7 linked regions of the Homo sapiens genome follow. The protein of the gene in region 6 interacts with the protein of the main gene of each other region in a pairwise test. Each region holds a gene or a part of one and is shown on either strand. Other genes may lie near its edges.

Region 1 (3,500 bases), on a different chromosome or scaffold from region 6:
CCTATAGTCCCAGCTACTCGAGAGGCTGCGGCAAGAGAACTGTTTAAACCTGGAAGGCAGAGGCTGCAGTGAGCCAAGACAGCGCCACTGCACTCCAACCTGGGCAACAGAGCAAAACTCCATCTCAAAAAAAAAAAAAAAAAAACAAGGGCCAGAAGCAGTGGCTCACACCTGTAATCCCAGCACTTTGGGAGGCAGAGACGGGTGGATCACCTGAGGTCAGGGGTTCGAGACTAGCCTGACCAACATGGAAAAACACCGTCTCTACTAAAAATACAAAATTAGCTGTGTGTGGTGGCACATGCCTATAATGCCAGCTACTTGGGAGGCTGACGTAGGAGAATCACTTTAACCTGGGAGGCGAGGGTTGCGGTGAGCCAAGATCGCACCATTGCACTCCAGCCTAGGTAACAGGAGTGAAACTCCGTCTCAAAAAAACAAAACAAAACACACACAAAAACAAAAAAACCCATCTGGTATTAAGCTTTACAAATCATGATGAGAAACAGTAAGGACACATATTTTAAAGTCCGATTAAACTAGGCCAGGAAGTTCGAGGCTACAGGGGGCTACGACTGTGTCACTGTACCCCAGCCTGGACAACAGAGTGAGACCCGGTCTCCAAAAATAAACAAACAAACAAAGCTTCTAACACACCACATCCCTCACCATTGCTGTATGAATTCAATAATCTCTCACTGTGTACCTATCCAACTTGCCAGATTAACTGCTATTAACTGCTCTCAATGCAATAGGTACGAACCTGCTCTGTGGAAGAAGGGTTGTAAGCCCTACCCACTTTTGCTCCAAGCTGGCTGTATGGAGAGACACCCAATCAATTCTACTTGTTCCTAAACCTGTTCACATCTGCTGCAAAACAATGAAATGAGTGCAAAAAAGGGAACCGCTACTTCTAGCAAAACTTTCAGGGCACAATTCAAACAATTTGAAAACCCACATCTAATTAAACATGGGTTAAGAAAACTTGCAGGCTGGGCATGGTGGCTCACACCTGTAATCCCATAATCCCAGCACTTTGGGAGGCCAAGGTGGGCGGATCACTTGAGGCCAGGAGTTCAAGACCAGCCTGGCCAACATTGTGAAACCCTGTATCTACTAAAAATACAAAAACTGGGCCAGGCGCAGTGGCTCATGCCTGTATTCCCAGCACTTTGGGAGGCCGAGGCAGGCGGATCACCTGAGGATGGGAGTTCAAGACCAGCCTGACCAACATGGAGAAACCCCGTCTCTACTAAAAATACAAAATTAGCCGGTTGTGGTGGCGTCTGTATCTAATCCCAGCTACTAGGGAGGCTGAGGCAGGAGAATCGCTTGAACCCAGGAGGCAGAGGTTGCGGTGAGCCAAGATCACGCCATTGCACTCCAGCCTGGGCAACAAGAGCAAAACTCCATCTCAAAACAAACAAACAAACTGGCTGGGCGCAGGGGCTCGCGCCTGTCACCCCAGCACTTTGGGAGGTGGAGGCGGGTGGATCACCTGAGGTCAGGAATTCCAGACAAGCCTGGCCCACATGGTGAAACCCTGTCTCTACTAAAAATACAAAAAAAAAAATTTTTGCCAGGTGTGGTAGTGAGCACTTGTAATCCCAGCTACTCAGGAGGCTGAAGCAGGAGAATCACTTGAACCCAGGAGGTGGAAACTGCAGTAAGCCGAGATTGTGCCATTGCACTCCAGCCTGGGCAACAAGAGCGAAACTCCATCTCAAAACAACAATAAAACAAAAAGAAAAGTTAGTCAGGTGTGGTGGCATGCACTTGCAGTCCCAGCTACTCGGGAGGCTGAGGCATGAGAATCCCTAGGAGGCAGAGGTTGCAGTGAGCGGAGATCGTGCCACTGCACTCCAGCCTGTGCAACAGAGTGAGACTCTGTCTCAAAAAAGAAAACTTGGCCAGGCGATAATAATAAAAATAAAATAAAAAGAGTTGGCCCATACATTAAAAGGTTAGTGCATGAATAAACCTTTATGTGTTAGGTAAAATGTAAAATGATTAAGGTGAATTATAATGCCCTGCGCTTTACTTATCCTAACTGCATTGGGGAAGATGGCTCTTACATCTATTTACATGCTTTCATATACTTCTGCTTCCCATCTGAGTTAACTAAAACAGCAAAAGGAAGAAACTTAAAGAAAGAACTTAGAGTGGTAAAAATGTTTTTGTATTTAGAAAGAATAGTTATTAGCTGGGCCGGGTGCGGTGGCTCACGCCTGTAATCCCAGCACTGTGGGAGGCCGAGATGGGTGGATCACGAGGTCAGGAGATTGAGACCATCCTGGCCAACACAGTGAAACCCTGTCTCTACTAAAAATACAAAAAATTAGCTGGGCGTGGTGGCGGGCACCCGTAGTCCCAGCTACTCGGGAGGTTGAGGCAGGAGAATGGCGTGAACCCAGGAGGTGGAGCTTGCAGTGAGCCGAGATCGCGCCACTGCACTCCAGCCTGGGCGACAGAGAGAGACTCCGTCTCGGGGGAAAAAAAAAAAAAAAGAAAAAAGAATAGTTATTAGCTGCCAGGCAACACTATGGGACCCTAGATCTCAGGCTTTAATGTAACCAAGTATGGTCAGATGACTTATCACTGCGACAGTCAGATAACATACCTTAGCTGAAGAAGTCAAAGCAAGCTGGTCAACAACCTGAAAAAAACTGTTTTGTCACTGTTTTTGTTTTGCCACAAAAAGTAGACTGACCTGGTAGGAGGGTAGGATGGAGGTGCAGTGACTGGCTGCATGGGGTAGCTCCCAGGTACCTGGGGATAACTGTAGTTACTCTGTCCATATCCTAGGCTGGGCTGGTTGTAACCCCCTGTGCTAGATTGAGGTTGACTAGTCTCAGTGGGCTTGTTTCCATCCTGCGGTCTAAGAGGAGAAATAATAAATAAAATTAAAAAGTGACTTTTTTTGTGTGGTTGGTCAACCACAAAACTCCTGGGTAAGAATGCTACAAAGCTACGAGCAATAAGCAATGTTATGATTAAGCCTGGAAATAAATACAATAATAAATACAATCCTAAAGTAAACTACATCAAACTCAGTGTCGGTCCAACTATATTTGCTTGAAGACAACACTAAGGAAGGGGGAGAATCAATCATATCCACAGAAGAGACATTAATATGCTCCATTCATCACAGTAAACGCTATAAAAGTGCGTTGCGATATTGTGTGCTACCAGTTTAGGTGATCCGGGAGAAGTGATCTGTTAGGGAATAAATGCTTTTTCTCAAAGGGGACTGCTGAAGACCAGAAACTAACAATAATGTTAAGTTTTAGGTTGAAGTAACATTTACGTAAGTCCATGGCATCATAAATTTAGAGAATTTGTGGGTTTATGTTTCTCATTTATTAAAAACAGACCAGGTCAAGGCCAGGCGAGAATGGCTCATGCCTATAATCCCAGCACTTTGGGAGGCCGAGGAGGGCGGATCACGAGGTCAGCAGATTGAGACCATCCTGGCTAAGACAGTGAAACCCTGTCTCTAC
Region 2 (3,500 bases), on a different chromosome or scaffold from region 6:
AACCATAATTCTCAGACAGAGCTAAGGGGTTGGAGCCCATGCCTCTAAAGTCACCCTGCTGTTTGGAAAGGATGAGGGAGAAGACGGAAGGGAGGACAAGCTGCAGAGGGTAAGGATTGACAGAAGAACCGAATGCTGACATCGAGGGAGGGGAGAGGCAGGAGGCATGGGCCGAGGGATTAGGAGAGCTGGGAGCCCAGCAGTCTCTCGATAGCTGCGTTGATGTCCCCTCCTGTGGCAATCAGGGCCTGCAGGTTAGCCTCACGATTGATGAAGCCCATGGAGTTGAGCTGCTCCAGCTGCTGCTGAAATCTCACTTCTGGCGTCTGCACCTGGAGGGGACAGGCCTTGTGAAGTGGGCACAGGACCAATCTTGGGGGCCCTATTTGAATTAAGGGTTTCTAAGACCAGCAGGTCTTCTCTAATATCCTCAGAGTCAATCAGGAGGGCAGGGAAGATGAGCTGCAAATGGGGGCCCAGGAGCCTAGGTCCCAAGTCCTAAATAACTGTGTAATGGCCGGGTACGGTGGCTCACGCCTGTAATCCCAGCACTTTAGGAGGCTGAGGCGGGCGGATCACGAGGTCAGAAGATCGAGACCATCCTGGCTAACACGGCGAAACCCCATCTCTACTAAAAATACAAAAAATTCGCTGGGTGTGGTGGTGGGCGCCCTGTAGTCCCAGCTACTCAGGAGGCTGAGGCAGGAGAATGGCGTGAATCCGGGAGGCGGAGCTTGCAGTGAGGCGAGATCGCGCCACTGCACTCCAGCCTGGGCAACAGAGCGAGACTCTGTCTCAAAAAACAAAAACAAAAAAACAAACAAACAAAACTGTGTAATAATATGGCAGGCGGATATCTTTTTTAGATTTTCAAGATAACTGATAGGCCTAGATCAGCATATATTCCTCATTACTTTCCATAAACACTGGAGATGTTAACAGGCACTCCAAAAGCCAAATGTTCTATGGTCAAATAAGATGCATACTAAGCATGACCTCCAAGGCCCCTCCTAATAGTCATCACACGTACAGCCATATGAAAGGCTAGAGAAGGGTCCCAGTTAAGAAGCTATTTAATTTTGTTTCACTGATCAACAGTTATTTATAAAAGAGAAGTATTTCCTTTTTTTTTGAGACAGGGTCTTGCACCCAGGCTGGAATATAGTGGCAGAATCATAGCTCACTGCAGCCTCTATCTCCTGGGCTCAGGTGATCCTTCTCTCTGAGCCTCCTGAGTAGCTGGGGCTACAGGTGTGTACCACCTTGCCCAGCCAATTAAAAAAAAATTTTTTTTTGGCTGGGCATAGTGGCTCATGCCTATAATCCCAGCACTTTGGGAGGCCAAGATGGGCAGTTTGCCTGAGGTCAGGAGTTCAAGACCAGGCTGGCCAACATGGCGAAACCCCATGTCTACTAAAAACACAAAAAATTACCCAGGTGTGGTGGCGCATGCCTGTAGTCCCAACTACTTGGGAGGCTGAGGCAGAAGAATCACTTGAATCCGGGAGGCGGAGGTGCAGTGAGCTGAAATTGCGCCACTGCACTCCAGCCTGGAAGACAGAGTACATCTTAAAAAAACAAAAGTGCGTGGTGGCTCATGCCTGTAATCCCAGCACTTTGGGAGGCTGAGGCAGGTGGATCACTTGAGGTCAGGAGTTCGAGACCAGACTGGCCAACATGGCGATACCCCGAGACTAAAGATACAAAACTTAGTTGGGCATGGTGACAGGAGCCTGTAGTCTCAGCTACTCAGGAGGCTGAGGCAGGAGAATCGCTTGAACCCGGGAGGCGGAGGTTGCAGTGAGCCGAGACTGTGCCATAACACTCCAGCATGGGGGACAGAGTGAGACTCCATCTCAAAAAAATAAAAATAAAATAAAAAATAAAGAAAAAAATTTTTTTAGCAGAGAAAGGGTCTTGCTATGTTGCCCAGGCTGGTCTCAAGTGATCCTCCTGCCTTGGCCTCTCTAACTGCTGGGATTACAGGCATGAGCCACTGCACTAGGTCTTCTTCTTTTTTTTTTTTTTTTGAGACGGAGTCTCGCTCTGTCACCCAGGCTGGATGCAGTGGCATGATCTGCCTCCCGGGTTGAAGCGATTCTCTTGCCTCAGCCTCCTGAATAGCTGGGATTACAGGTGCATGCCACCAAGCCCGGCTAATTTTTGTATTTTTAGTAGAGACGTGGTTTCACCATGTTGGCCAGGTGGGTTTTGAACTCCTGGCCTCAAGTGATACACCCGCCTTGGCCTCCCAAAATGTTGGGATTACAGGCATGAGCCACCATGCCCAGCTTGCACTAAGACTTTTTTTAAAAGAAAAAAATTTTTACAGACTGGGTCTCCCCGCGTTGCCCAGGCTGGTCTCGAACTCCTGGCCTCAAGCAGTCCCCTGCCTTGGCCTCCCAAAGCACTGGGATTACAGGCATGAGCCACACTCCTGGCCTGGCTTTTTTTTTTTTTTTTTTTTTTGAGATGGAGTTTCACTCTTGTTGCCCAGGCTGGAGTAAAATGGCACGATCTCAGCTCACTACAACCTCTGCCTCCCAGGTTCAAGTGACTCTCCTGCCTCAACCTCTCGAGTAGCTGGGATGATAGGCATGCGCCACGACACCCAGCTAATTTTGTATTTTTAGTAGAGACGGGGTTTCTCCACGTTGGTCAGGCTGGTCTTGAACTCCTGACCTCAGGTGATCTGCCTGCCTCGGCCTCCCAAATTGCTGGGATTACAGAAGTGAGCCACCGCCTGGCTAGCTTGGCTTTTCATTCTTGTCATTCCTCTAATTATCTCCTGTAAATGTTTGCCCAAGGGGTATTTGGAAAGCACAAGCCTTGATTATGAACAAAAGACTCTTATAGTGGCCGGGTGCGGTGGCTGACGCCAGTAATCCCAGCACTTTGGGAGACCGAGGCAGGTGGATCACGAGGTCAGGCGATCGAGACCATCCTGGCTAACATGGTGAAACCCCGTCTCTACTAAAAATACAAAAAATTAGCCGGGCGTGGTGGTGGGCGCCTTTAGTCCCAGCTACTCGGGAGGCTGAGGCAGGAGAATGGCCTAAACCCAGGAGGCGGAGCTTGCAGTGAGCTGAGATCCGGCCACTGCACTCCAGCCTGGGCGACAGAGCGAGACTCCGTCTCAAAAAAAAAAAAAAAAAAAAAAAAGACTCTTATAGCTAGAAAGAGTCCAGCAAGCACCGTCCACCTGGTGTTGAAAGGAACAATGTTCGATCCAGAGAAAAGACAGGACTTGCCTGGGGTCACAGAGAAAGTCAGTCACTAAGGCCCCCTGACTTGCAGTATAAAAGCCCTTTCTGGACGGGTGTGGTGGCTCACGCCTATAATCCCAGCACTTTGGGAGCCCGAGGCAGGCAGATCACCTAAGGTCAGGAGTTCGAGACCAGCCTGGACAACATGGTGAAACCCCATCTCTACTAACAATACAAAAAAATTAGCCGGGTGTGGTGGCGCGTGCCTGTAATCCCAGCTACTCGGGAGGTTGA
Region 3 (3,500 bases), on a different chromosome or scaffold from region 6:
TTAACAATACTGAATCTTCCCATTGAGAGATATTTTATGTCTGTATTCATTCTTTTTAGTAATGTTTTTTAAAGTGTTTTCTTCACGCTGGTTGTGCAGTGGCTTACGCCTGTAATCCCAGCATTTTGGGAGGCCCAGGCTGGGGAATCACTTGAGGTCAGGAGTTCGAGTCCAGCCTGGGCAACATAATGAAATCCTAAAAATGCAAAAAAATTTAGCCGGGTGTGGTGACGCATGCCTATAATCCCTGCTACTTGGGAGGCTGGGGCAGGAGAATTGCTTGAACCTGGGGTGCTGAGGTTTCAGTGAGCTGAGATCGCGCTACTGCACTCCAACCTGGGTGACAGAGCAAGACTCTGTCTCAAAAAAAAAAAAATTTTTTTTCTTCGGATAGGTCTTGAAGTAATCTTGTTGTTGATCTTGTGTCTGTTCATTTTGCTGAAATGTTTTAGCTCCAATTAATTGGTTCTAATGGGGTTTTTAAAAAAATTTTCTTGTGTATTCTAAATAAATAATCTATTTGTCATTTTCACTACAAATGAGTTTTACCATATTCTTTCCAATGTTGTTATGACTTTTCTTAATGGATTGTCAAATATAATCAATACTGAATTGGCTTGGTAATTGTGATCTTCCTTGTTTTGTTGCTGATTTTAATTTATTCTTTTTCTTTTTCTTTCTTTTTTTTTTTTTTTTTTTTTTCTTCAGACGGAGTCTTGCTCTTTTGCCCAGGTTGGAGTACAGTGGCGTGATCCTGGCTCACTGCAACCTCTACCTCCCGGATTCAAGCAATACTTCTGCCTCAGCCTCCTGAGTAGCTGGGATTACAGGCACACAACCACCACACCCAGCTAATTTTCCTATTTTTTGGTAGAGACAGGGTTTCACCGTGTTGGTCAGGGTGGTCTCAAACTCCTGACCTCGTGATCCACCCGCCTCGGCCTCCCAAAGTGCTGGGATTACAGGCGTGAGCCACTGTGCCCAGCCCTGATTTTACTTTATTCTTGATCTTAATAGAAGTTCTTACAATAGGCTGGGCACAGTGGCTCATGCCTGTAATCCCAGAACTTTGGGAGGCCAAGTTGGGTGGATCATTTGAGGTCAGGAGTTCAAGACTGGCCTGGCCAACAAGGTGAAAGCCCATCTCTACCAAAAAATAGGAAAACTAACCAGGCGTGGTGGCGGGTGCCTGTAATCCCGGCTACTGGGGGGCTGAGGAAGGAGAACCGTTTGAACCCGGGAGGTGGAGGTTGCAGTGAGCTGTGATTGTGCCACTGCACTCCAGTCTGGGCCACAGAGCGAGACACCTTCTCAAAAAAAAAAGTTCTTAAAATGTTTTACAATTATTGTATATTAATGACTGTAGGTTTGTGATAGATAATCTAGATTACTTCTTAATTTTTCATGATTCTTCTTATCAGGCATTTTACCAAGATTTTCTTGAATGCTTTTGGTTTGTTTTGAAAATAATCATATGACGTTTATCCTTTAATCTGCTAACAGTAGATTTTCTAATGTAGTTTCCTAATATCAAATCATCCTTGAATTTATACATGATGTTAGTCTATAGTCTTCTTGTTCTGTTGTTGTTCAGTTTCAGCTTTGAAAGTTTACATTACCTTCCCAGAATAAGTTAGGACACTCCTTTTCACTTTTTCTCCCCTAATGTGTTATAACACCTTAAATAACATAAGAATGATCTATCCAATAAAGGCTTCATAGAATTTTCTCAAAAACCTTTCTGAGCCTGGAGCCTTTAGGAGGGATGATATTAGAACTTTCATCACCTTTTCCATTGCTGCTCTGATTTGTCTTTTTTTCTTTCCCTTGAGTTAGTTTAGCTAATTTCAAACTCATTGATATGAAATTGTACGTGGTATTTCTAATGTTATTTATATTAAACATGTTTTCTTTATAACACTTGGAAAGGTATATTTCATGGTTTCTCCAGCTTTCCTGAGTAAAAAAATCATATGCATTTGTTAAAAATGCAGATCCCCAGGTTCTTCCCTAGAGATTTCCCCTAGAGATTCAGTAAGTCTAGGATGAGGACTTAGATACTATATTTTCAGTAAGTTCTGGAGTCTTATCAGGTGCATTAGGAAATTCTGATCTTTTTTTTGGGTCTTTTGACCAAAATTCATTTTCTTCTACTTACTTTTTTTTTTTTTTTCTGTATCTGGAATGAATTCTAAGCTCTTTTGTTACCATTCTTTCTTACATCTTTAGGTACTTCTTTGGCCATGTCCAGTAGCATTTAATCTGAGTGTTTTCTTTTTGTCATTAATTCTCCTAAAATTTGTGATTATGTCTCCCTCTGCCATTTCCATTAGAACTTTGATATATGGTCTTCCAGTAGGTTTTGTTCTGTAATCTATTCACCCTTACAGTTTTAATTTGACTCATTTTTATAGTGACACGTAGTCGAACTAGATCAATCACACTTAAAATGAAAATTAGGAAAACTGTGTCACTGGATTGCAGTACTGGGTTATTTCTTGAAAAAGTGTAGAATGGGTTCTTGCAACCCCTATAGTACTATCTTAAGAACTGATGCCATCATACAGTTCCTACTATTGGCAAAACAGTTCGTTTGATGTTAGCTACCACTTACACAAGGGAAGGGCGATTGAAAGGGATCATTTTTCAGAGTTTAGATGGCCCATACAGACTTCCTCTCAGAATTGATGATTTGGAGGGAAAACACTGGTTATCTTAATGCTGGTTCCTCTCTCCTTAAGGTTGTTATTATTATACATACTTAAATTTTTATCATTTACATATTCATCCCTGAAATTTTGAGCAACAAAAATAAAATCTCCATTTTATTTTATGTTACATATTTTGAAAATATTACTTTGTCTGCTGTTTGGAGAATGGATTGTAGTTGCTTAGTCTGGATTAGGCTCTGAATAAGTGTAGTCAATTGATTAGGTAATTGATTGCTTTATCATTACTTGATAGATGATTTTATTAATTTTCCCTTCTCAGTTAATGGAGAATCATCCTCATTTGCACCAACTGATAATGCGTCTGTCACGGGTACTCCAGTAGTGTCTGAAGAAAATGCCTTGTCTCCAAATTGCACTAGTACTACTGTTGAAGATCCTCCAGTTCAAGAAATACTGACTTCCTCAGAAAACAATGAATGTATTCCTTCTACCAGTGCAGAATTGGAATCTGAAGCTAGAAGTATATTAGAGCCTGACACCTCTAATTCTAGAAGTAGTTCTGCTTTTGAAGCAGCCAAATCAAGACAGCCAGATGGGTGTATGGATCCTGTACGGCAGCAGTCTGGGAATGCCAACACAGAAACCTTGCCATCAGGGTATGTTAAGCTTTTTAATGTCTGACTTGCATTTAAGTAGCAACTCTGTTAACATACGATTATTGAATGTGTGCATAAAATGTTTTCATTGTTCAGAACTTTGAAATCTAAGTTGGGATCTGAATCATACTATTTATTTACTTGCTACAAAACAAGTACTTTTTGAAACTAA
Region 4 (3,500 bases), on a different chromosome or scaffold from region 6:
AGGGAAGGAGCAGGAACAGCTGCCTTGAGGGGTCACCTTTATGCTGAGATCTGAAGGATGCACAGGAGTTCAGGAGGCCAGAGTCACAGAAAGAACATTTCAGAGCAACGTCCTGGGACAGTAACTAACATAGGCCTTTAAAAATCTGAAAAATAGCCAGTCTAGCTGAATAACAGCAAGCCAGGCTCAAGAGGAAGTTAAAGAGAGAGCATGGAAAAGGCCATCCTGAGTTTAGTGTTAGCCTTTATCCTAAAAGTAATAGGCCACTAATAAAATAGGGGCTCTACACTCTCTGTAATATGAGCAGATTTACATTTTTAAAGATCACTGGGGTCAGCACAGAAACCAGACCATAGGCAGACCAGTGGGGATATGGAGATGTGAGTTAATTTCTTACATTTTTAACATCATCATAATTTTCCCCAGACTCTGAAAGTATGATGGATTACTCCTCAAATCAATGAATTAAGCATAAAGAATTACCTGAAATTTGAATACTAGTATCATTTATGTAAAGACTAATTGATTTAAAATATTTTAAATATGTTAGCAAATACTTGTCATTTATAATTTGCAAGCATTGTGCTCAGTGTTTTACATATACTCTCATTTACTCTACAAAGCAACCTACATTGAAAATATCACCCTTATTTATAGATAGGAACTCTGAGGCTTTGAGGTACTGCAACTTGTTTAAACTACCACATAACTATTAGTACAGAAGGCAGAACCTGGTTTACCAGCACATTTACCTATACGAATTTTTTTTTTAAAGTAGGCAGAACTTGAAGCCTGATACAAACTTCCTATGCCTCAGCTTTCCCACATACATAATGGGGATAACTGACAGTATTTACCTCATAAGAGTATTCTAAGAATTAAAAGTGTTAGTCCACATTAACTCCACATTTAAAACAATGACTAAAGCATGGTAAGATCTCAATTTTAAATTATCCTTACTCTTAGCATCGTTATCTTAAGACTTGTGCTATATGTAATCTTGGACTTGAGAAACAAAATCAAGCTGTAGAGCCATATATATCTATATATATAAACAAACTCTCAAGTCTGATTATATCTGAACTGTATTATTTATGTATATCTACTTTTAATTAGTGATAGGGTGGATTAAATCATTCTCTTAAGTGCCTTGGATGAATATTATAGACTTACTAATGATTTTTCAAACACCAACCCTATAAGAATTTAGAGCAGATGTTCTCAACCCTGGCTTCACCTTAGAATCACTTGGGGTGTTAAAAGATTACTATTCCTTGAGTCCCACCACTGGAAGCTATGATTTAATTTTTCTGGAATAGTGCCTTTGCACTACTATTTTTAAGTGCTTCTGGGTGATGATACTTCAGTGCAGACAAGGTTGCCATGAGCCACCACTTGAGAGTCTGAGCTTATCTAGCTCATATTCTTTCAGTTGCAAACATCTGGATGAGATCCGGGACCCGCAGGGAGGTTTCTTGCTAGGCAATTAAACATGACATTCAGCTCCTAAGCACATTTGTTTACTCAGAGAAGAAAACACAGTGGGTACATCCTTCTATCCAAACCACATTCCCTTTGGTCCTAAATCCTCAGGATGCTCTTTCAAGATGTGGGTAGCCTGTCTGCTTGTAAATCTGGACATGCCATGGACTTTGCTATTTTTAAAGTTCTAGTAGTTTTGATAACTGCATTTGCCTAAATGAAAATCTCTGAATTCTTTCAGGCATTGGTTGAAAAGAAAAAATGTACTCAATTATGTATGTAGTCAAATGACTCAATTACTTTTCTTAGAAATACAGGGTGGAATCAGCATATATATAAAAATAAAGCTTTCATATACATTATAAAATTAAAATGAGAATTATTCCCAGGTAACTGAATTTCTATTACTTTCAGTTTTAAGCAGTCTTACTATTTTGATGTGACTCTCACTGAACACATGCCAAGCTACTACATGACTCAGTTTATCAGAAATAAATTTCCTAAATGTGATTAAATGATCATAATTTTCAGAACAGATGGAGGATCAATAAAATATTTTACTTAACATTTGTATTTTAGGATGTACAGTCTTGTATTTCATTTGCTAAATGTAAACCTAATGTTGTTTTTACTAGCTTTCTTTATACCTTTACTGTCCTCTATAAATAAAAATTACTTCTGTGCAAAATGATAGCCAAATAAAAATAATCAAGAACAACTAGGCTGCCAAAATTTCATTAATATAATTTTAAAAAAAGAACTACTAAAATAAAAACAAATGCACAATTCTCTCTCTCTCTTACTCTCTCTCTCCCACTCTCACTCTCTCTCTCTGTCTCTCAATTAATTTTACTTTTTCTTCTTTCAGCAACTGCTTTACCTTGGAATGCTGTCGGTGGATACTGAGGAGGATACCCAACTGGCAAGTTTGTTTCCGGGTGAGAAGCATTCATCTGTGAGTCTGCAATTCAAGGAGAGGTAAATAGATGTCTGATTAAATAAAATATATATTAGAAAGAAACAATGTATTGTACTTAGATAATTGTAACTTGTATGTTCTTATGCTGTATTGAAATAGGGAAAGTAAAATTTTCACTTAACGTAAGCTGTGCCTGTTCTCAGAGCTAATTTGCAACTAGCAAATTTGTTTCAAACAAATTCTCCTTTAGATAAAATGAGACAGTTAAGTTACTGGGGCTGAATTACCAGTTTTTGAAACATCCCTGATGAATGTTCAGTTCCATGTTTTGTTGATAATAAAACAAAGATAGCTTTAAAATTACATACAGACTACGAAGAAAGAGATAAATGAAATTAATGGGATGTGAAGATGGTAGAATTATGGATGATTTTAAAGATATCTATCATCATTGCTGTAAGTATTATTTTAAATATTTAAAATAATGAATATACTTCAGTATTTATATATGTTATGCTTACTCTGGAACTACACCAATGAAGTTGAACCATATGAAATTCCCCAAATATGACTGTTTTTGACCCACAAAAGCCATGTTTAATTACAATACACTAGCATATTAAACTTTGTTATTTGCTAATAAGGCTTGAGTAAACTTAATATATGCACAAATGGTTCAACCTCCTAAATATTAATATTCATGTCTATCTAGTCATTCGGTTACCTACCGCAGCCAGTCTCTAAATATTTACTGAGCATGTCCTGTGTCACCCTTGAATTAGGCTCTGTGGCTACAATGGCTCTGCTTTCATACAGCTTAAGGTGCAGTAGACACTACACTTATCTCCTTATCTGTTTCCTTATGAATTACTAACTGTAAATTCAAAGTCTTTTGTTTTAGAATCATGGAGACATGGCATCAATATAGAAGAACATATAGGTCAAACTTTCACTGTAACACATTTTTCTGTATGTGTCTCTATTATGAACTTTCAAAGACCACTCAACTTGTGAATCGTGTGGTTTTATCAGGAAGATTGGATTGTTTCCCCCACCCCCTGCCCCGGCCTTTCTCCTTCATAAATAGCTTCATGATGAC
Region 5 (3,500 bases), on a different chromosome or scaffold from region 6:
CTCGGACACCCCATGGAGCCCACCCCTGGTGCCAGCAGGAGCCCCACGGAACCCCTCACCGTCCCACCAGCCCTGGAAGGGCACAATTAACCACAGCGGTGGGGAAGCCACAGTGCCGGAAGAGTGGAGAGCCAGAGCTGAAGGGCCGCAGTGCCAGCAGGGGGCTCCTGCGGGGTGCTCCCTCGGCGTTGGCGGGCAGCGTGGACCTCCAGGCCTGCCCCCGATCCTGAGACCCGGGGAGTGGGGTGGGACCCTGCCTCCTCCACATGTTCCCCAAGGAAGCCAGGGTGGGAAACCCCTGATTCCTTCAACACCTTCATTTTGCACACGGGTAAACTGAGGCCCAAGGAGGCCCAGCCCTTTGCCTGAGGCCTCTGGGTGGAGCTGCCTCACTCTCGGCCTATGCTCCTTCCCAACCCACCTCAGCAGGTAATGAGGGGGCCAGAGGGGGTGACAGCCCCAGTGGGAGGGGTGCTGGGATGAGCTGGAGGGGCCAGGCAGGGCAAAGGGGCCACACGCTCACTTGGCAATGGTGTCCACACCCAGCTTCACCCGGTCCTGGTCTTTGTTGAACGTGTAGATCTTCATGATGGAGGCGGCCACTGGGTCGGTGGAGAAGTGCTGGGAGGAGGGAAGCAGGGAAAGCCACTCACTGAGAGCCCGGGCCGCACGGCCCTCCGCTGCCCAGGTAACAGGGGCAGGAAAAGGAAGGCAGAACAGCGGCTTGGAGCGGCCCCAGCTGTGCGCTCATCACAGAAAGGAAAAGAGAGACCCTCCAAGACCGCAGCCCTGCCCACGCCCCAGGGCAGAGGCGACGCAGCCAAGACCCAGCAGAACTCAAGTCTCCCCTTCCGCCTTCTCAAGGCTAGATCCATGGGACTTGGAAGCCAGTGTGACGCGACAGAACTGTGCCTCACACTCTGGCTTTAGAACTCGACCTCAGTGCTGAGATCCATCAAGGCCACCGCCACTTACAGAACCTCCCGCCACCATGGACGCCCCATCCCTCCTGCTCTCGCAGCCCCATGATGGACGTTCTGGAACCACTCCCGGGCCTCATGTTTACAAAGAGACCGAGAGGCCCATCGTCCAGGGTCACAGGGATGGCAGGTGGCAGAGAGGACACAAATGAGTCTGCAACCCTCAATGTCTGAAACTCAATAGCTGGAAGACGGATACCCCCAGCCCCTGCCCCTCCCCGAGGTCCCACCTATCCACCTATGTTACCGGGGGAGGGGAGAAGTCATAGCTGGAACTCTGGGGGTTTCCCAGAACCAGCCCTGCTGACTGCGAACAGCGTCCCAGCATGGAGAGGCTGAGAACAGTACGTACCCTAAGACCTGGAAAAGATTGGGGCACAAATCCACGCTCGGCACAGCCATCACACACGGCCACACCCAGAGAGCCACCCATGGCCTGGGAAGCAGGGCTGCCACCCGCACCTCCCTGGGCTGCCCAGACGAGGGCGGGTGAACAGAAGGGCAGCCCAGGGCCATGTGTCAGGATTCGGGCCACCTGCCCAGGCAGCCCAGAGCTCCACCCACCACCCCCCACCCTCAACTGCACAGCAGGGTCCCTCAGCAGCCCCCTGCGTCACACGGACCAATGACCTACACACTGAGCCGGGGCTCATGCCAACTGAAAATTGGGACCCGGCCCAGTCTGCCGGTTTAGTTGCTGAGATGATGTGGGGAGCGGGACAGAGCACGTGGATGCAGAGAGGCAGAGCTGCCAGATGGGCATGTCCCCAAGACAACAGCTTCCTTGGGATCAGAGCGCCCGGGACAGCACACCAGCCAAGGGAAGCGTGTCAGCTCCAAAAGCGGGCCTCGGGCGTTTTGGGCGACTGGCTGCCAGGCTTAGGTCAGGAGCTGGGTACATGCACAGACAAGGGACGAAGGAACAGCAGCCAGGAAGGGGTCCAAATCCATACAGGAATGTACTTTGTGAGAAAGGTGGGATTTCACAGCTGTAAGCAAAAGACAGGTGCTCTCGACAGGTGGGGCTGAGAAGAAAGCTGAGCCAAGATCTAAAAAAAAAATTACATCAGCTCCATCCCACCATGTTACATAATAACATGCTCCAGCTGGATCAAAGCTTCAACCATGGAAACAAGCAAGCAGTCAAGGAGAAGCCAGAAGAAAAGCTCTGGAGGCCGGGCACGGTGGCTCATGCCTGGAATCCCAGCACTTTGGGAGGCCGAGGCGGTCGGATCACGAGATTAGGAGAGCGAGACCATCCCGGCCAACATGGTGAAACCTCATCTCTAAAATACAAAAGTTAGCCCGGGTGTGGTGGCGTGCACCTGTAGTCCCAGCTACTTGGGAGGCTGAGGCAGGTGAATTGCTTGAACCCGGGAAGCAGAGGTTGCAGTGAGCTGAGATTGCACCACTGCACTCCAGCCTGGTGACAGCAAGACTCTGTCTCAAAAAAAAAAAAAAAAAAAGCACTGGAGAGGCCACAAAAGAATTCTCTCAGCATGGAAATGGGGAAGGCATTTCTAAGAATGACCCCAAACCCAAAAGCCATGAACTAAAACTGACACATTTAATTATACAGAGATCAAAAAATCCTACACAGCAAAGTGACCATAAGCAGAGCCAACATAGAAGCAACTAGAGGGAAACATGTGCAACTCATATCATAGGCAAAAGCCTAAATTGCCTAATATGTAAAGAGTGCTGCCGGGCACGGTGGCTCCCGCCTGTAATCCCAGCACTTTGGGAGGCCGAGGCGGGCGGATCACGAGGTCAGGAGATCGAGACCATCCTGGCTAACATGGTGAAACCCCGTCTCTACTAAAAATACAAAGAATCAGCTGGGCGTGGTGGCGGTTCGCCTGTGGTCCCAGCTACTCGGGAGGCTGAGGCAGGAGAATGGTGTGAACCTCGTAGGCGGAGCTTGCAGTGAGCAGAGATGGCGCCACTGCACTCCAGCCTGGGCGACAGAGCGAGACTCTGTCTCAAAAAAAAAAAAAAAAAAAAAAAAAAAAGAGTGCCTACAAATCACTAATAAAAAGACAAACTATCTACTAAATAATGTAGAAAGGACGCATTCTCATATGAAACATGGCCAATCCAAAATAAGGAAAGTGCAAATTAACTCTATCCTGAGATGTTATTTTCACCTACCAACAGGCGTAAAGATCAAAGTTTGGTGATTTACAGTATGGTGAGAGGATGGGGACACGGGTGCTTTTGCACACACTGCTGGAGTGGGTGTGAGTCTGGAGAGTCTATGGAACTATTACTATTTTGTTTTGTTTTGTTTTTAAGATGAAGTTTCGCTCTTGTCACCCAGTGTCCACGCTGGAGCTCAATGGCGTGATCTGGGCTCACTGCAACCTCCACCTCCCAGGTTCAAGCGATTCTCCTGCCTCAGTCTCCTGAGTAGCTGGGATTACAGGCGCCTGTCACCACGCCTGGCTAATTTTTGTATATTTAGTAGATAGGGGGTTTCACTATGTTGACCAGGCTGGTCTTGGAACTTCTGACCTCAGG
Region 6 (3,500 bases):
ATTATAAGACAACCTGAAAGTTCAGACGTAACTTACAGATTCTCCCATTAATACAATTTACTAAAGAATTATACAAATGGCACATATGGAGGAGCTAATGGTTTTAGGGACTATTAGCCAAAATAGTCCCTAAATGGATAGAATGACCCAGAGAAAAGCATTTGTTATATGATGGTAAACAGAGCAACAAGATATTATGGGCCCAGGCTACTGTTTTGCTATTTAAAGGAGAGCCAGAATAAGATCTTTTATTTATTTTGTATTTTTTTAATTTTAATTTTTATTTATTTATTTTTTTGAGACGGAGTCTTGCTCTGTCGCCCAGGCTGGAGTGCAGTGGCGCAATCTCGGCTCACTGCAAGCTCCGCCTCCTGGGTTCACGCCATTCTCCTGCCTCAGCCCCCCCCCCCCCCCCCGAGTAGCTGGGACTACAGGCGCCCGCTACCTTGCCCAGCTAATTTCTTGTATTTTTTGTAGAGATGGGGTTTCACCGTGTTAGGCAGGATGGGTTAGCCAGGATGGTCTTGATCTCCTGACCTCGTGATCCGCCCGCCTCGGCCTCCCAAAGTGCTGGGATTACAGGTGTGAGCCACCACACCCGGCCGAGAATAAGATCTTTTTAAAAGAAAAAGAAAAAAGCCTAGTAGGGGAAATATCATTTATATTCCTAAATAAAGGGACCTCAAGTAATCATCAGGTAATCGTTTATGTAATTAATGACTTATCCAATTTACTAGTTACAGAATCTTTACATACCAATTTTACTTGTTACGAGGTAGAATGTCTATAAGACTTATTTAATAAGGGGTCTGGGATCTCAAGGTTAAATCAGAGAACAAAGCTAAATTTAACAAAGGGCAGAAACTAAGACCACAAGTCACTGAATAATGCCATAATTTTATTCTGTTTGTACAGCAATACTAAAATAATCTTTAAGAAATGAGTTTTTGTTAAACAAAGTAACATGCTCAAATTGCAATGACCACAGAAATTAGGAAAAAAGAGGGTAAGTTTTGTTATGAAGTTTCAGTGTGGCTGAAGCTTCAGGCGGTGTGGCTGCAGCAGTAGTTCCATGCACTTAAGATACTAAAAAGTTTCCCACAAGGGGTGTTGGGCACTTTAAACTCTCTTGCAATCCGGTTCTGAACATCAAGTAGAATTACTAATATTATTCAAAGGGAGTTGAGTTTCCATCCTCCTCAGCAGAAACTATAATCACAATATATGGTCTGAGGGAAAGTAAAAAAGAATGGAAGGGTTATTAACAGCAGGACTAAATGTATTTTTAAATTTACACTTTCACTTACATAAATAGGTGAACAGATTCTTTGTTTTCTTCTATTAGCTACAAACCTGTGAAAATGTTTACATAAGTAGACAAAAAATTTACAAGCATAATTGCAGCTACACTAACCTGGTATATCACAATCACTTACTATTTTTGTCCATCCATGAATTCCTATGTTGACACAAACCAATTTTCCACATTGATATGATTCTACCAATATTTAGGATCAGCCATTTTGTCTGGTAGTTGTACTGCTTCCAAGTGGTTGTAGTACGATCCTAATTAAGACCATGGTCCTGGGGTTTGATCTCCATGTGGACTAGTTAGCTTCTCTCTGTTCCAAGGCCACAGCCTGTACACTTAGCCCCAATGGTATACATTTAAACTTTGTGAAAAAACATAATGAATCTGAATACATTTGCTGCCATTACTAAAAATGAAACTCAAAGCACACTCTTTTGTAGTTATCAGTAACCTTCCTTTTAATCAGCTTCATATCACATCAATCCTCCAGCGTAAAAAAAAATACAGAACATACTGAACTTTGTTCTTACTTCATAAAGTGAGAAAATATGCATGATGTTTGCATGAGAAATTATGCAAAATGTATATCACAGGTCATATATAAATAAAGCTCTGTGAGCCTACTGAACAGACTAAAAAAAAGGTTTCCAGTTTGTCAAAGAAATATTTCACGGTATCATTTTTTATTACATGAAGGGTCTTTTCAATTATTACTTTTAATTTTAATGGCATTCAAAAAACAAGAAAATATCAACATCATTCCTCTAATTATCTTTGATACCAAATGTTGCCCAATCTTATCTGCTGTTCATAGTAGCTAGCCAGCTATGTTACATAAAGCTTGGAATAAACAACAGCTCTTAGGGTTTGTTTAAAAAAAAAAAAAACTCACTAATTTTTTTCATTCCCTACCATTCTAAATCACTACAATCATTCTTTAGACAAGGTATTCTCTCAACATTTTACACAACAAGATTATGCTCCACATGATATACAAATATCTGTTGCCAAGCCAGAGAAAATGGATGGCAAAATGACCAAAATCCTATTAGTTCCCTTAAAGTATGGCTTCTCAACCTTTTCATTATCCCTGTCTCCTCCCTCCCTTCAAGAAGTTACTTTTAGACATTTTTTCCCTAATTACCCCTCTTACAATTTTAATATCACAGATATACGATACATACTGTATACCACTATTGGGATGAACTTGTTGGCTGTCAAAATATTCATCATTCTCCCTGACAGGCCTGATATTTTTTTGATGGTTCTAAAATTACAGTAATATCATTCGAGGCTAGGCATGGTGGTTCATGCCTGTTAATCCCACCACTTTGGGAGGCCAAGGCAAGAGGATCCCTTGAGCCCAGGAGTCTAAGACCAGCCTGGGCAACTTAGGAAGATCCCATCTCTACCATAAAAATACATAAATACATACAAAATTCGTGCATTATATGATACTATCAGTAAATGCACAGCAAAGGCCACTTGTTTCAAAGCCTATTTTAAATTATTTCCATTTAGAGAAATATATGAAGGGGGGAAGTTACATTTTGCATTTACAAAATATATCCTATACCTCGGAAAAGAAATACTAGTATGCAAAATCCAATAGCAGATAACCTAATGCATACATTTTTAAAGAAAATATATCATTTTCTGGTTTTATCTAATTATGTTCTCAGTAGTTATTAAAACTGGCTAGTAATCCCTGTAAAAATCCCTTCCTTATATAATGGTAAGGAATTTGGTACTAAAAATATGCCACATAAACCATAGTGGACAATTCACAGGCAACTAAATTAACTGCACCCATAAATAACAAAATAGAGAAGAGTTCTAGCTTCCCTGAACATTTCTATCCATTTTTCTGAATCAATTCTACCTAGCTCATTCTCAACCTGACAGCTTTATTTCAGATGGTTTTCTAGTAAACATAAATAAATCATAAACAATGTTTCTCTGATATTTGTCCAAGAAATTTATTTTCATTAATTGGCTCAACAATTGGCTAGAATACATACATAATGACTGAACGTAAAGCAAAATGATTCATGACATAAAAACTGACTTATCGGATGTCCAGGTCCGTAACTCCTAAGTGAATTCTTTGTTCCAACTACTGCCTCTATACACCTCCATTCTTTTAAAAGTAATTAATCTATTTTTGTGTGTGACAAAGTCTCGTTCT
Region 7 (3,500 bases), on a different chromosome or scaffold from region 6:
GACAGGGTCTCCCTCTGTTGCCTAGGCTAGAGTGCAGTGGTGCGATCATGGCTCACTGCAGCCTCAAACTCCCAGGCTCCAGAGATCCTCCCACCTCAGCCTCTCAAGTAGCTGGGACCACAGGTGCTCACCACCATGCCAGGCTAATTTTATTTTTTTGTAGAGACAGGGTTTTGCCATGTTGCCCAGGCTAGTATCAAACTCCTGGACACAAGCAGTTCTGCCTCAGCCTCCCAAAGTGCTGGGATTACAGGCATAGGCCACTGCACCTGGCCTACTATTCCTTTAACATCCAGTTCATGTGTCCCTCCCTTCCAACCGCTGCATCCTCACAAGACAGTTATGATTTGGCTCCTGCTTCTGTAGATCCTCACTTCCAAACTTTTGTCTCTTCATTTCTGATCCACTCCTGAGCAAAGGTTTATTCTTCTTTCTTCTATGTAATGTCCTTACTTTGTATAGGCTCACTATTCTCATGATCCTCTTTATAACATTTTTTTTGTCTATATCTCTGTCTCTACTAGCAGGTTGTGAATTTTCTGAAAGCAAGAACTATATTTACCCACTTGGGGATCTGTAGCACCTGGCATAGTTAAGTGCTACATAGTAGATATTCTCAATAAATGTTTGTGAAATGAGTGAACGGGTAATAGAGAAGTGGTCTACAGATACCTACTTTACTTCCAATTTCTGCTTATTCTATACTCTGTTGAATAGTGATTCTTACCCACTGGGATCATATATCTAATTGAAGAAAGTGGCAAACTCCCTCTCCATAAAAATGCAAATAAATTTGGTACAGGAGGGGTTAATGAAATCTTTGAGCCAAAATGCACACTTAATTATGAAGCCCTGATGGTAAGTAACTGCATCCTATTTGCAAGTTTTGTAATTGCCCAATCTTGAAGAAACCATAACATCAAGACAAATCCGTACCTGAATTTCGTCGCACTTGATTAGCTTTTCCACCTCTCCTTGACTCAGAAGAATGAACTCTTCATGCTGTACCACTTCAGGAAAATGCTTCTGGCTAAAAACCTCAGCTGCTTGCATCAGGTCAACACAATTGTGGGTTTCAGCAAAATCCCTAATACCCAGGCAATTAGAAGGGTCCAACTGACTTTCTAAGAACTCACAGCAGGCTTGTTTCACACCTAGGACAGACACAGGCAGCAAACACTTTAGAATAGTTGGACAGGTGTGATCTAGGATATATTCTTGTATCTCAGCATCTTCTCTACATGTTATCAGATGAACCCTTGTTTCAACACCTAAGAAACAGATTAGAAATTCTATGCTTAAGGAACTTAAACTCTATTTCTGGCTTATGTACTGTGCCACTTTCAGCAAGACCTTTACACCTGTCTCTGCTTAATCTTTAAAATGAGTATTGCAAGATGAATCACATCCAGAGACCTGGCACAATTCAACAAAAATGCCTATAAAACTCTTGGGAATCAAACTATAAAACCAATTGCGAATTCAGCATAATGTATCCATTTTCTACTCTACATGAAAACTTACTAAAAGACTAGAGTGAAAGAAAAGGAGAAGATAGTAATAACAAATCTCATATTTATCTAATTGAAAAGTTCAGAGTATTTTAATGTTATGGCTATGCACTAATGCAAAAGCTTCACACTGTTTAAATCATGTATTAAAAACTAAAAGTGTGTCAATTATGTATATATAAAAACTGAAAACATAACTGAATGTTAAAAAAGAAAAACTGGGGACCAGGAACGGTGGCTCGTGCCTATAATTCCAGCATTCTGGGAGGCAAGGTGGGAGGATCACTCGAGCCCACGAGCTTGAGACCAGCCTGAGCAACATAGAGAGAACTCATCTCCACACAAAAAAATTTTGTTTTAATTAGCTGGGTGTGGTGGCATGCACCTGTGGTCCCAGCTACTCAGGAGGCTGAGGTGTGAGAATTGCTTGAGCCCAAGAATTCAAGGATACAGTGAGCTGTGATTGCACCACTGTGCTCTAATCTGGGTGACAGAGTGAGACTCTGTCTCAAAAACAAAACAAAAAACCTGGGAATTGTAAGGGAAAACAAACCACCTGTAATCCTGTGAAAATATCATACTTTAATATTTTGTGCATCAATTTAAATTTCATGTATCTTAATGAAATACTACCACTTAATGGCCAGATAGATAAAGAGTATCCATGTAGGCTATGTATAGTATCACTTTTTTATTATATTTCCTTATAGGTGTGTTACATACATGTATGTAAGAAAACACATAATTTCTCCTTCCTCCATTTTTTTTTTAAAACAGAAAAGGTGCAAATGCTCTCTTTTATAGAGCCAAATACTCATATCTGGAGAAGTTCCTTTATAGTGCTATTGACATCTGATCTCTTATTGCTCAATGAGACAAAAGCCATGGCCAGCAAACATGAACATCCATAGTTTGTCTCCAAAATGTTCATGATTAAGTTTACACTATTAATTTTCAACCTTTCCAGGGCTATTTTGACATAAACAATAGCAAGTTTTAATGTCTGTACCTTTCAACTGAAGCAGACAGGCTGCAGGAAGCAGTTCTTGTACATTCTCCACTGTCACATGTACTGTTTCTGTGTACACAAAGTCCAATAAAATTTCCATGGTAGAGGCAGTCAAACCTTGGATGTCAACATAAGGTTTCCCCTTCTCTGAGAGCTGAAAATTCAAAAGGTATAAAAGAATGATGGTTATAATTCCACAAGATAAAGGCAGAATCTCATATCTAAGAGCTTAGAGATGTTAATAATATTAATTGAACATTTATCTTTAAAAATTACAGGCCAGGCGTGGTGGCTCATGCCTGTAATCCCAGCACTTTGAGAGGCTAAGGCAGGCAAATCACCTGAGGTCAGGAATTCAAGACCAGCCTGGCCAACACAGTGAAACCCCGTCTCCACTAGAAATACAAAAATTAGTTGGGCATGGTGGCACATGCCTGTAGTCCCAGCTACTCAGGAGGCTGAGGCAGGAGAATTGCTTCAACCCAGGAGGCGAAGGTTGCAGAGAGCCAAGATTGTGCCACTCCACTCCAGCCTGGGCACCAGAGTGAGACTCCATTTCAAAAAAATAAAAAAGAAAGAAAATAAAAAAATAAAATTATGCTCTATTTTGTTGGATTTTTTTTTTTTTTTTTTTTTTTTTGAGACGGAATCTTGCACTGTTTCCCAGGCTGGAGTGCAGTGGTGCCATCTCGGCTCACTGCAAGCTCCACCTCCTGGGTTCATGCCATTCTCCTGGCTCAGCCTCCCGAGTAGTTTGGACTACAGGCGCCCGCCACCACGCCCGGCTAATTTTTTGTACTTTTAGTAGAGACGGGGTTTCACCGTGTTAGCCAGGATGGTCTCGATCTCCTCACCTCGTGATCCGCCTGCCTCAGCCTCCCAAAGTGCTGGGATTACAGGCGTGAGCCACCGCGCCCGGCCAATTTTGTTGGATTTTAATAAAGCAAATATGGCACATTATCTGTAGCTTTCCAAATGAA

Evidence for each region.
Region 1: the proteins of CPSF6 (region 6) and EWSR1 interact in a two-hybrid assay, tested with the Homo sapiens proteins (one large-scale study listed by BioGRID and IntAct).
Region 2: the proteins of CPSF6 (region 6) and UBQLN4 interact in a two-hybrid assay, tested with the Homo sapiens proteins (one large-scale study listed by BioGRID and IntAct).
Region 3: the proteins of CPSF6 (region 6) and WWP1 interact in binary tests that used the Homo sapiens proteins (3 or more experiments, as listed by UniProt).
Region 4: the proteins of CPSF6 (region 6) and PLSCR1 interact in a two-hybrid assay, tested with the Homo sapiens proteins (one large-scale study listed by BioGRID and IntAct).
Region 5: the proteins of CPSF6 (region 6) and UBXN6 interact in a two-hybrid assay, tested with the Homo sapiens proteins (one large-scale study listed by IntAct).
Region 7: the proteins of CPSF6 (region 6) and KLHL12 interact in a two-hybrid assay, tested with the Homo sapiens proteins (one large-scale study listed by BioGRID and IntAct).

What each region holds. Positions count from the first base shown.
Region 1 is NC_000022.11:29,281,768-29,285,267, reverse strand, and holds part of EWSR1 (RNA-binding protein EWS), read right to left. Parts: intron 2,879-3,500; coding exon 2,711-2,878; intron 1-2,710. UniProt on the Homo sapiens protein: Binds to ssRNA containing the consensus sequence 5'-AGGUAA-3'. Might normally function as a transcriptional repressor. EWS-fusion-proteins (EFPS) may play a role in the tumorigenic process.
Region 2 is NC_000001.11:156,036,799-156,040,298, forward strand, and holds part of UBQLN4 (ubiquilin-4), read right to left. Parts: intron 333-3,500; coding exon 180-332; 3' UTR 1-179. UniProt on the Homo sapiens protein: Regulator of protein degradation that mediates the proteasomal targeting of misfolded, mislocalized or accumulated proteins.
Region 3 is NC_000008.11:86,408,547-86,412,046, forward strand, and holds part of WWP1 (NEDD4-like E3 ubiquitin-protein ligase WWP1), read left to right. Parts: intron 1-2,991; coding exon 2,992-3,328; intron 3,329-3,500. UniProt on the Homo sapiens protein: E3 ubiquitin-protein ligase which accepts ubiquitin from an E2 ubiquitin-conjugating enzyme in the form of a thioester and then directly transfers the ubiquitin to targeted substrates.
Region 4 is NC_000003.12:146,531,108-146,534,607, forward strand, and holds part of PLSCR1 (phospholipid scramblase 1), read right to left. Parts: intron 2,444-3,500; coding exon 2,363-2,443; intron 1-2,362. UniProt on the Homo sapiens protein: Catalyzes calcium-induced ATP-independent rapid bidirectional and non-specific movement of phospholipids (lipid scrambling or lipid flip-flop) between the inner and outer leaflet of the plasma membrane resulting in collapse of the phospholipid asymmetry which leads to phosphatidylserine externalization on the cell surface.
Region 5 is NC_000019.10:4,447,795-4,451,294, forward strand, and holds part of UBXN6 (UBX domain-containing protein 6), read right to left. Parts: intron 3,037-3,500; exon of another isoform or gene 622-3,036; coding exon 524-621; exon of another isoform or gene 1-523. UniProt on the Homo sapiens protein: May negatively regulate the ATPase activity of VCP, an ATP-driven segregase that associates with different cofactors to control a wide variety of cellular processes.
Region 6 is NC_000012.12:69,246,069-69,249,568, reverse strand, and holds part of CPSF6 (cleavage and polyadenylation specificity factor subunit 6), read right to left. Parts: intron 1-3,500. UniProt on the Homo sapiens protein: Component of the cleavage factor Im (CFIm) complex that functions as an activator of the pre-mRNA 3'-end cleavage and polyadenylation processing required for the maturation of pre-mRNA into functional mRNAs.
Region 7 is NC_000001.11:202,917,235-202,920,734, forward strand, and holds part of KLHL12 (kelch-like protein 12), read right to left. Parts: intron 2,675-3,500; coding exon 2,521-2,674; intron 1,155-2,520; coding exon 937-1,154; intron 1-936. UniProt on the Homo sapiens protein: Substrate-specific adapter of a BCR (BTB-CUL3-RBX1) E3 ubiquitin ligase complex that acts as a negative regulator of Wnt signaling pathway and ER-Golgi transport.